Linked DNA regions of Homo sapiens: region 2 is linked to region 1. The links come from fine-mapping of genetic effects on gene expression. A gene starts in region 1. The other region holds a variant in brackets. All regions are shown on one strand. Distances are from middle to middle.

Region 1 (5,383 bases):
TTGCCTCACTGCCTCATACCATCCTTCTTCCAGATGTCCTCCTCCCTCTGCTCAGGTACCAATATCCTATACTAGGCTGTTGCCACTGTTGCTCCCCAAACAGATGTGCTCACCCTCCTCCCCTGCAACCCACTGAGGATCTAACACCCCTCTCTTGGTATACGAATGCCCTCCTCACTCTTTTGTGCTCCAACACTTCAGGCTACGCAGTCACCACTGCTCCCTCTGCCACGCCACTTCCCAAAATGCATGCCCTTCTCATTCTGCCTGGGATCCAACACCCTGCACCAGACCAAGCCTTTAAAATACCACAACTGGCTCAGTTCCATCAGCCCATGCAAGATCTGTATCAGTGAAAAAGTGCAGGCATCTGGACATCCTGAGTTCTAAATAAATAAAAATTGTGAAGAATCAGATAAAATGAAGGGAACAGAAATTGGGTGATGACAAAGATATGCTTTGTCTATTTTGAATTTTTACCTTATACGAGATACAGGTTTTTAAAAAGGAGCAGAATTGTTTTCTCCCTTCCTATTCATGACTCCAAATTTACCCTAGTATTATTAGGTCACTACATTCTTATCACTTAAATACTAATTTCTATGAGGAAATCCATTTCAAGTTGTAAACTAGTGACAATATTTTTTAAAAACTATACCCAATTATGTAACTTTCATTAAACCTTTTACCTAAGAGAATTCAAAGTACTTCAAAATCTGTTTATAAGTGGCAGATTATTTCCACTAAGTAGGGTAAGATAGCCACAAAGAAAGTAATTTTGGACAATATTAAAAATGAATTCTGAAAAGGACATACTTACAGAAACATGATACTTCATGTAATAATGAATAATCCAGACAGGTACAAGTACATGAGTGAAAACAAAGATACTCTTTTTGTATACCCCATGGACCTGGGGGGAAAAACACATACACAAAATAAACATATCCCATTTTTTATATTTATGGCAGAACAAAAGGCATCAATGATGTAACAATGCCATGACTATTTTACAAAACTCTAAATGGCACATATTTTCTTATAGTCTGTAGGTAACCTCATCTACTCAAATATTCTTAGTAAATGCAGAGTCTGCTAGAAGATACCTACAAAGTCCAGACCAAAATGCTTAAGCAGTATTTTGCAAGACTATAACAAGGCATTTATAGATTTTTTAAAGACTTCCAAAAATATCCTTATTATAAGTTTGTTAAAGATAAAATATAGCAAAATAATGAAAGAATAATTTTAATGTATTTAACCAGAGTAATCAAACCTACAGAATTTTTCAGGTATAGTCATCTCCCTTATTTATTGATCAATGACACTCACATCATTTTAGGTATAAGGCAGACAACCTTGACAACGCCAATGCTGGAAAAAGGACGTTTTACATACTAAGATGGGGTGTCCCAAACTCACTCCAAAATGCCCTCTGCAACACTATTTTAAAAAAGAACTAAAAATGGAACTTTCCCATGTCTTCCAACTTGATTAAAAAACACCTATCCATTCAAGGAAGGGACAATCCAGAATCTAAGAATTATAACAGATATGATTATAAAAGAATAAATTAAAGTAAGGTAAGGTGAACTTCGACACATTATTATTTATTTACTTCCTTATATCACTTGCTGATGGATGGGATGTCAACTTTAAATCAGTGACTGCCAATATTCCGATAATGTCAGGGATACAAAGGGTGGGAGAAGAGTTGAATTTTACCACCATAAATAAGTATCCAATATCACTTTCTCAGAAAAATTTTCAACAATTCTATTGCACTAGACTTTGTAGCACAGTAAGAATCAGATACATGTTGATTACAATATGAACTCATATTCAATTCCTAGCTCCCTGACCACCAGCAAATCACTGAAGCTTTGTAGGCCTCAGTTTCTTCACATTTAAAATGAGGATTAGGAATATCTACCTTACAGGAATAAAGAAATGAAGTAACACATGTAAAACCCCCAGTAGAGTGCCAAGCACACAGCAAGCACCCGTGTGTTACGTAGTATTGTTACTACTATTATCCTGTCATCAGTAAGTGTTGCAGGTAACTGAAAGCAATTCTGAGATGTTTATCATCCATAACAGTCCTCAAGAAAATACCCAGAGGCCTTGAAAATAAAGTTCTTGAATGAGTGATTTTCTTCAAAGCCCAAAATGCGATTTTTTTAATGAAACACTGTGTTAAAAGTACAGAACGGTAGTTTAGAAAGGTAGCTCTTGAATGTGACTCACAAGGCATACCAACAGGACCCTGTCTTTTACGGGGATCACATGGGGCTGTACTATCAGCTAGGGGCTGGCTGTGCCCTCTGGTGGTTGGATACTGTGTTACTTGGTCTCTAGAACCTCACACTTAAAAGTCAGACAAGTGTCCTCAAATACTTAAATCACAGAATTTTAATTCTAGCGAGTCCTTGGTTATTATTCTGAGGGAAGATTTCTACAGTCAAAAGAGAACCAAACGTGCAGCGTCCTGGAAAACCTAAGTATTAAAATTCGCCCCCGTCCACTGTACTTGACAGTAAAAGGCATGATTCTCTCAAAGCCATACATATTCCTGGACTCCTGCCTCCCGAGACTCCAGGAGGACTCTCGGGACTGGCCAGTGTCCCAGAGCACTGAGCGTTATCAGTCCTTGGTGTGGCTGCAGGGAGCGGACGTTCAGTGTTCAGGCTGCCGGCAGCAGTGGGATGTGTTGGGGGGGACCGGAGAGGTCTGTCACTCACCATTTTCCTCCAAGGGGATTTATTCTCCAAAAATTTATTCCAGAATTTCTCCATAGGCCCCATCTTCTGTGGGGGCAGCACCGGCTCCCGAGGGCTCAGCTCCTGGTCCTTCAGCCATCGCCTTCTCAGCTCTCGCAGCTGCTGCAGCCGCAGTTTCTCATCCGGAGTGTACCCCGTCATGTCGCCGCTGGTACCAACGCAAAAGGACACGGCGCACCCTCGAACTACGGACTAGTTACTTAAGCGCGCTCCCGCTCTGCAAAGCGACCTTGCGGGAACGCCGAGCGCCGCGCGCGGTTATTACGTCACATCCTGGTTCCGCCTCTGCAAGGGCCCCAGATTCCTCGCGAGGAAAGCAGTGTGTGGGCATGCACAAAGGTCTCCACCTCCAGTTCTCTCTACGCCCACCTCCGCTATACCCGACCAAATTAGGACCGGGTGGGGACAAGGAGTACTCGTAGTTGTGGGGCCTGAGGAAAGTGACAGATTAGACGAAAGTATGCTAAATTAGAGGACTGGAGGTTTTGCTAAGGAAGAACTTGTATGCTGGGAGGAGGAAGGATAAGCATAAATGTTTCAGTGAATATGCTGGCCAGATTCAAAATTATTTGCTTGCCTCTCCCACCTTGGAATGACCTAGAGAGTGTATGAAAATAGTTACATCCCAGTTCAAATCCCAGCTATGCCAGTAACTGCTGAAGTGCCCTGGGCAGCTGTCTCATCTGTCCCTCCATCTGTACAGGAATAGTGAAAAGAGTAGCTTAATATCTAGCAAAATTGCATAGATGAATTCATGCTTTCACCCAAAAATACGTGTGGTGAAAATATGAAAGAGCATGCACGACTATTCAGCACGATTCATAATACCAAAATATTGGAAATTACCCCCAAATTCCTAAATAAAGGACTGCTTGAATAAATTGTAGTACAACAGTCAAAAGACAGCATTACAACGAATTAGTTTAAAAATCTTAATTGACTCTTATTCGTGATTCTAGAATCAAAAAACACCTCATTCTATAAAGTAGAATGAGTGTTCTGATCAGCTGAGCAGAGGCGGTTGGTTTTATTGGCAAATAGGGGCTGAAGAAAGCAGAAACCGAACAAAAAGTGGACTCATCGTTTCAAAGTTACTTTTAGGGTTAAAGCAGAAGAAACTTCCTTGTTTCACTGACTCAGACTTAAGGGAATTTCCTATTTTTTGGGAAACTGGCCCATTTCAAAGTTCAGTTTGATTGTGTGGTACTTAGCACAAACGACTCCATTCTGGTTTGGTCTGGTCTGCTGGGGCCTAGTGCGTGAAGCTAGTCCAAAACAGTGGCTTCCCAAAAACTTTCACACAACAAAGCAATGAAATGCTAATACAATCGTCAAAAGTAATAAGGAAGAACTCTATATACATCTGTGGTGTGATCTCCAGAATACATTACAAAGTGGAAAAAAAATGGATAGGAATTTGTACAGTATGCTTTTACCCAAAAAGAGAAAGATGGTGGTAATTTCAATATATATACATATTTTCTTAAATTTTCAAAATAATGGGAATGAAAACAATTGAGGTTTTTAAAGATGCTACCTATGGTGGAGGAAATAAATAGGATAGAGGAGACAGGGATAGAATCTAGACATCTCTGGAAACATCTTACTTCATAAATTTGACTTTAGAACCAAGTAAATATTTCATATTGTGAAATTAAATTTAGCTTAAAGATGTCTCCGTATTTTGAGTCCTTATATAATGAACTGCAACCCAACTTAGTATGCAATTTAACTCACAGCCTAACTTAGGAATATACTTCTGTAACAAATAACTGAGTCTCAGCCAATCATCACAGGTGGTCAACTGATCAGCCCATGTTCAAATAAGGCAAAGGCCAACCTGTAGCCAATCAAGCTGTTTCTGTATCTCATTTCTGTTTTTTTTCTATGCGTGCTGCCTGGCCTCTTTGTGGAACGATACTTTCTGAACCTCCTCTGGTTCTGAGGGCTGCCTGATTCTCAAATTGGTCATTGCTCAATTAATTTCTGCTAAATTTAATTTTTCTAAAGTTTTAATTTTAACAATATCATTACAAAACAAAATTAAATTTACAAAAAGCAGTCCATAAAAATCAAGTAAAAACCAGTAGCTCTTAATTGGTCCACTTGGTGGCATAATCTCAAAGGTACACATCATTCTAAATACAATAGCCCTTGTAACAACGCTAGGGTTAGTAGTGCCAATCCCCTCCACTTGGCACAATCAAACATCCACATATAACTTTGGACTCTCCAAAAACTTAATAGCCTACTCTTGACCAGAAGTTTTACTGATAACATACAGTCAATTAACACACATTTTGTATATGTATTATATGCTATATTATTACAATAAAGTAAGCCAGAGAAAATAAACTGTTATTAAGAAAATCATAAGGAGGCAAAGAGAGGGGTTGGTCTTGCTGTCTTGGGGTGCCAGAGGCAGAAGAAAATCCACGTATGATGGACCCTCGAAGTTCAACCTGTTTTTTTCAAGGATCAACTATAACTTTAAACCATTGAATTATTGTAAATCCACTGAGAGACAACCCGCAAAAACAAACAAAAAAAAAACAACTTAAAAAAAATCTTGGCCAGGCGTGGTGGCTCACGCCTGTAATCCC
Region 2 (5,383 bases), 64 kb before region 1:
AGTGGATTACAGGTGTTGTTTCCTATTAATAAATATGTACCTACATCAACTTTTAGTGGCTGCATAGTTTTATGTCACATAAATGTAGTATAATTTAATGTATTCCTTTAACACGAAACTAAAATGCGTTTAGTACACACCCATCTATGTCTTTACCTGCTTTACCAACTTTTCCCTGGAATAAGTTCTCAGAAGTATAATTCCTCAGTTTAACAGTATATGCTTTTAAATGTGGAGGCCAGGCGCGGTGGCTCATGCCTGTAATCCCAGCACTTTGGGAGGCCAAGGCAGGCGGATCACTTGAGGTCAGGAGTTCAAGACCATCCTGGCCAACATGGTGAAACCCCCATCTCTTCTAAAAATAGAAAAATTAGCCAGGCGTGGTGGCTTGCACCCGTAATCCCAGCTACTCAGGAGGCTGAGGTAGGAAAATCACTTAAACCTGGGAGGTGGAGATTGCAGTGAGCTGAGATTGCGCCACTGCACTCCAGCATAGGCAACAGAGTGAGACTCTGTCTCAATCAATCAATCAATCAATCCATAAATGAATAAATGAATCAATGAAGGAAGGAATGAATGTTAATACATTTTCCCCAACTACCTTCCAAACTGTACTAACCCTCCATCGATAGTGTATGAATGATATTTCCCTCCATAGCACTGAATTTGCTCAATCTTCATAACCTTTGCAAAACTGAGAGACAAAAACAGACCAAACAAACAAACTTCACTGTTTTTAATGATTTCTTGTGGGATTTCTTCCACCTTTGGCCAGTGTCTTTTGTTTTGGTTATTTCTTAATACATTTCCTGTTCATGTCTCACAGCTAGTTTTGAGAGGTCATTCATATTTTTTTCTAAATTGGATTTGTAAGAATCTTTTATGCATTTAGGGAAATGTTATATAATCTGGTTTGTTTTTCCAGTATATGAAAATACTGTTTTTCCAGTATAATCTCACTTGTTTTCCAGTAGATAAAAATGCGTGGCCTCCGTTTTTATTTTATTTTACGTATCTATTGCAACAAGACTGAATGAACTCTGTTAGTTCCAGTAATTTGGGGGAATTTTGTTTTTGTTCTTTATTTTGGCCAGTTTGCTTTCTTTGGAGTTAACTGGCTGTTCTTTTTGCAATTACTTCAGTCAAATTAATTAATTCATAAGTGTTCATTCTTTTGAAATACCAATAAATCCATTTAGGCTATAAATTCTGATTAAAAGCTTATTACATCTTAAAATATATAATATGTTGGCTGATTGCCGTGCTTACTTTTGAAAGTAGCTATACTTGTTTAGATTTTCTCATTCTGCTAGAAGTTACTCAAAAGGATGCTATTTTGAAATTCTGTGAAAATTTTTTTAAACCTATGATTAATTTCTGGGATATAGAATAATAGCTAACAGTAATTTAATACCATGCAGTTTAATTTCCAAAACACCCAAACATGGTTTTTATTCTGATTTTACAAATGAGGAAACTGAGGCATACGAGAGTTAAGACATTTGCCCAGTATCACAGAGCCTACAAATTTGAAAATAAAACTCATAAAAGTTATGCTTTGGGAATTTATTAAATATTTATCTGTAACTCATATAGGATCACTTTGGCAAAGCTTTTTAAGAATTGGAGGAGAAGGATATATTTGCTATATGATACAAAATGGAAAACATAGACATTAAATCAACCTTATTAAACAGATCATTTATGCTTTTATTATCATTTATCTGACTTAGCAGTACTAATAAAGATATCTTATAATTCCCATATTTCTTGACGTTTTCTAATATTTAATAAACAAAGATTTATGTGTACCAAATCTTCACTGATATCTCAATACCTTTATCATTTTATCTTAATACTTTCCACTAGTGCAATTTAAGTATAATTCTTGCTTTCTTTACGTATGCATTTATTTAATATATATTTGTCCCTTCTTTATCTCTTTTTTATTTATTTATTATTTATGAGACAGGGTCTTGTTCCATTGCCCAAGCAGAAGTACAGTAGCATGATCATAGCTCACCATAGGCTCAATTTTCGGGGCTCAAGCAATCCTCCCACCTCAGGTTCCCAAAGTGCTGGAATTACAGGCATGAGCTGCCAAGTCTGGCCCCCATTTTTATTTTTTATGTTATTAGACTTTACATGGGTCTCTGGCAGATGACCAAAACCTGGATTCTGCTTTCTGACTCATTCACACCTATTTAAAAGATGTTTGACCTAATTACATGGCCATAGCTGATATAACTAGTTTTCCTTGTGTTATCTTGTTTATATTTCCCTTTCCTATATTTTCTGGTTAGCTTAAATTACTAGTTTCTTTTCTCCTCTCAAGAACAACAAAACATATAAAACCTCATTTAAATGGTATCATTATCTGTAACCATTCATATAGCTTTTTAAAACTACAGAAGCAAGTGGAAAATGGTAATATTTTAAGTCTCCCCCTTTTGAGGCAAGGGATTTAACTCTTATTTATCATAATTTTCCCTAGCTCCTAACAGACTCAATCTAAAATTTTAAACCAAAGTATTTACTTAATTTTTTTTTTTTTTTTTTTACTATATGAAAATCCTCTCTTAAAAAATGCTTGACTAGGAACCAGGGCAAGATGGCCAAAAAAGGAACAGCTCCGGTCTGCAGCTCACAGAGAGATCAACACAGAAGGCGGGTGATTTCTGCATTTCCAACAGAGGTACCCGGTTCACCTCACTGGGACTGGATAGACAGTGGGTGCAGCCCACAGACAGCGAGCTGAAGCAGGGTAGGGTGTCACCTCACCTGGGAAGCACAAGGGGTCTGGGAACTCCCTCCCCTAGCCAAGGGAAGCCATGAGGGACTGTGCCATGAGGAACAGTGCACCCTGGCCCAGATACTATGCTTTTCCCC[C/G]CAAGTCTTCGCAACCAGCAGACCAGGAGATTCCCTCCGGTGCCTATGCCACCAGGGATCTGGGTTTCAAGCACAAATCTGGGTGGCCATTTGGGCAGACACTGAGCTAGCTGCAGTTTTTTTTTTCATACCTCAGTGACACCTGGAATGCCAGCAAGACAGAACCATTCACTCTCCTGGAAAGGGGGCTGAAGCCAGGGAGCCAAGTGGTCTAGCACAGCAAATCCCACCCCTACAGAGCCCAGCAAGCTAAAATCCACTAGCTTGAAATTCTCGCTGCCAGCACAACAATCTGAAGTTGACCTGGGATGCTCAAGCTTGGTTGGGGGAGGGGCATCCACAATTACTGAGGCTTGAGTAGGCCCTATTCCCCTCACAGTGTAAACAAAGCCACCAGGAAGTTCAAACTGGGTAGACCCTACTGCAGCTTGGCAAAGCCACTATAGCTAGACTGCCTCTCTAGATTCCTCACTCTAGGCAGGGCATCTCTGAAAAAAAGCCAGCAGCCCCACTCAGGGGCTTACAGATAAAACTCCCATTTCCCTGGGAGAGGGCACCTGGGGAAAAGGGCAGCTGTGGGCACAGCTTCAGCAGACTTAAATGTTGCTGCCTGCTGGCTCTGAAGAGAGCAACAGATCTCCCAGCACAGTGCTTGAGCTCTGCTAACGGACAGACTGCCTCCTTAAGTGGGTCCCTGATACCTGTGCCTCCTGGTGGGGAGACACCTCCTACCAGGGTCAACAGACACCTCATACAGGAGAGCTCCAGCTGGCATCTGGCAGGTGCCCCTCTGGGAGGAAGCTTCCAAAGGAAGGAACAGGCAGCAATCTTTGCTGTTCTGCAGCCTCCACTGGTGATACCCAGGCAAACAGGGTCTGGAGTGGACATCCAGCAAACTCCAGCAGACCTGCAGCTGAGGGGCCTGTTAGAAGGAAAACTAACAAACAGGAATATCATCAATATCAACGAAAAGGACATCCACACAGATAACTCATCTGAAGGTCACCAACATGAAAGACCAAGGGCAGATAAATCCATGAAGATGAGGAAACGCCAGTGCAAAAAGGCAGAAAAAAAATGTGATCCTCTTCTCCTCCAAAGGATCACAACTCCTTGCCAGCAACGGAACAAAACTGGACGGAGAATGAGTTTGACAAATTGACAGAAGTAGGCTTCAGAAGGTGGGTAATAAGAAACTCCTCTGAGCTAAAGGAGCATGTTCTAACCCAATGCAAGGAAGCTACAAACCTTGAAAAAAGGTTAGAGGAGTGACAACTAGAATAACCAGTTTAGAGAAGGACCTGAATGACCTGATGTAGCCAAAAAACACAGCACGAGAACTTTGTGAAGCATACACAACTATCAATAGCTGAATCAATCAAGCAGAAGAAAGGATATCAGAGATTGAAGATGAATTTAATGAAATAAAGCATGAAGACAAGATTAGAGAAAAAAAGAATGAAAAGGAATGAACAAAGCTTCCAAGAAATATGGGACTATGTGAAAAGACCAAACCTATGTTTGATTGGTGTACCCGAAAGTGACGGGGAGAATGGAACCAAGTTGGAAAACTCTCGTCAGGATGTTATCCAGGAGAACGTCCCCAACCTAGCAATACAGGCCAACATTCAAATTCAGGAAATACAGAGAACACCACAAAGATACTCCTCGAGAAGAACAACCCCAAGACACATAATCATCAGATTCACCAAGGTTGAAATGGAGGAAAAATGTTAGGTGCAGCCAGAGAGAAAGGTTGAGTTACTCACAAAGGGAAGCCCATCAGACTAACAGCAGATCTCTCTGTAGAAACCCTACAAGCCAGAAGAGAGTGGGGGCCAATATTCAACATTCTTAAAGACAAGAATTTTCAACCCAGAATTTCATATACAGCCAAACTAAGATTTATAAGCAAAGAAGAAATAAAATCCTTTACAGACAAGCAAATGCTGAGAGATTTTGTCACCACCAGGCCTGCCTTACAAGAGCTCCTGAAGGAAGCACTAAATATGGAAAGGAAAACTGGTACCAGCCACTGCAAAAACATACCAAATTGTAAAGACCATCGACACTATGAAGAAACTGCATCAACTAACAGGCAAAATAACCAGCTAGCATCATAATGACAGGATCAAATTCACACATAACAATATTAACCTTAAGTGTGAATGGGCTAAATGCCCCAATTAAAAGACACAGACTGGCAAATTGGATAAAGAGTCAAGACCCATTGGTGTGCTGTATTCAGGAGACCCATCTCACATGTAAAGACACACATAGGCTCAAAATACAGGGATGGAGGAAGATTTACCAAGCAAATGGAAAGAAAAAAAAAAAGCAGGGGTTGCAATCCCAGTCTCTGATAAAACAGATTTTAAACCAACAAAGATCAAAAAAGAGAAAGAAGGGCATTATATAATAGTAAAGGGATCAATGCAACAAGAAGAGCTAACTATGCTAAATACATATGCACCCAATACAGGAATACCCAGAT

What was found. PIP is the estimated chance that this variant, and not a neighbour inherited with it, causes the effect. A credible set is the group of variants that fine-mapping cannot tell apart.
Region 2: its variant is the best candidate, but not a certain one, in a credible set for the expression of NDUFB6 in whole blood (TOPMed, PIP 0.82).

What each region holds. Positions count from the first base shown.
Region 1 is chr9:32,570,140-32,575,522 of GRCh38, forward strand. NDUFB6 (NADH:ubiquinone oxidoreductase subunit B6) reads right to left here and starts at 3,020. Exons shown (of 4, transcript NM_002493.5): 1 at 2,742-3,020; 2 at 821-913. The coding sequence starts at 2,921. RefSeq lists enhancers at 2,568-3,107, 3,378-3,427.
Region 2 is chr9:32,505,699-32,511,081 of GRCh38, forward strand. All of the region lies in intron 1 of RIGI (RNA sensor RIG-I), which reads right to left. Among named protein-coding and RNA genes, the nearest start is that of RIGI, 18 kb to the right of the region's middle. RefSeq lists enhancers at 2,382-3,100, 3,101-3,817. The variant C/G (reference allele first, on the strand shown) is at 2,890.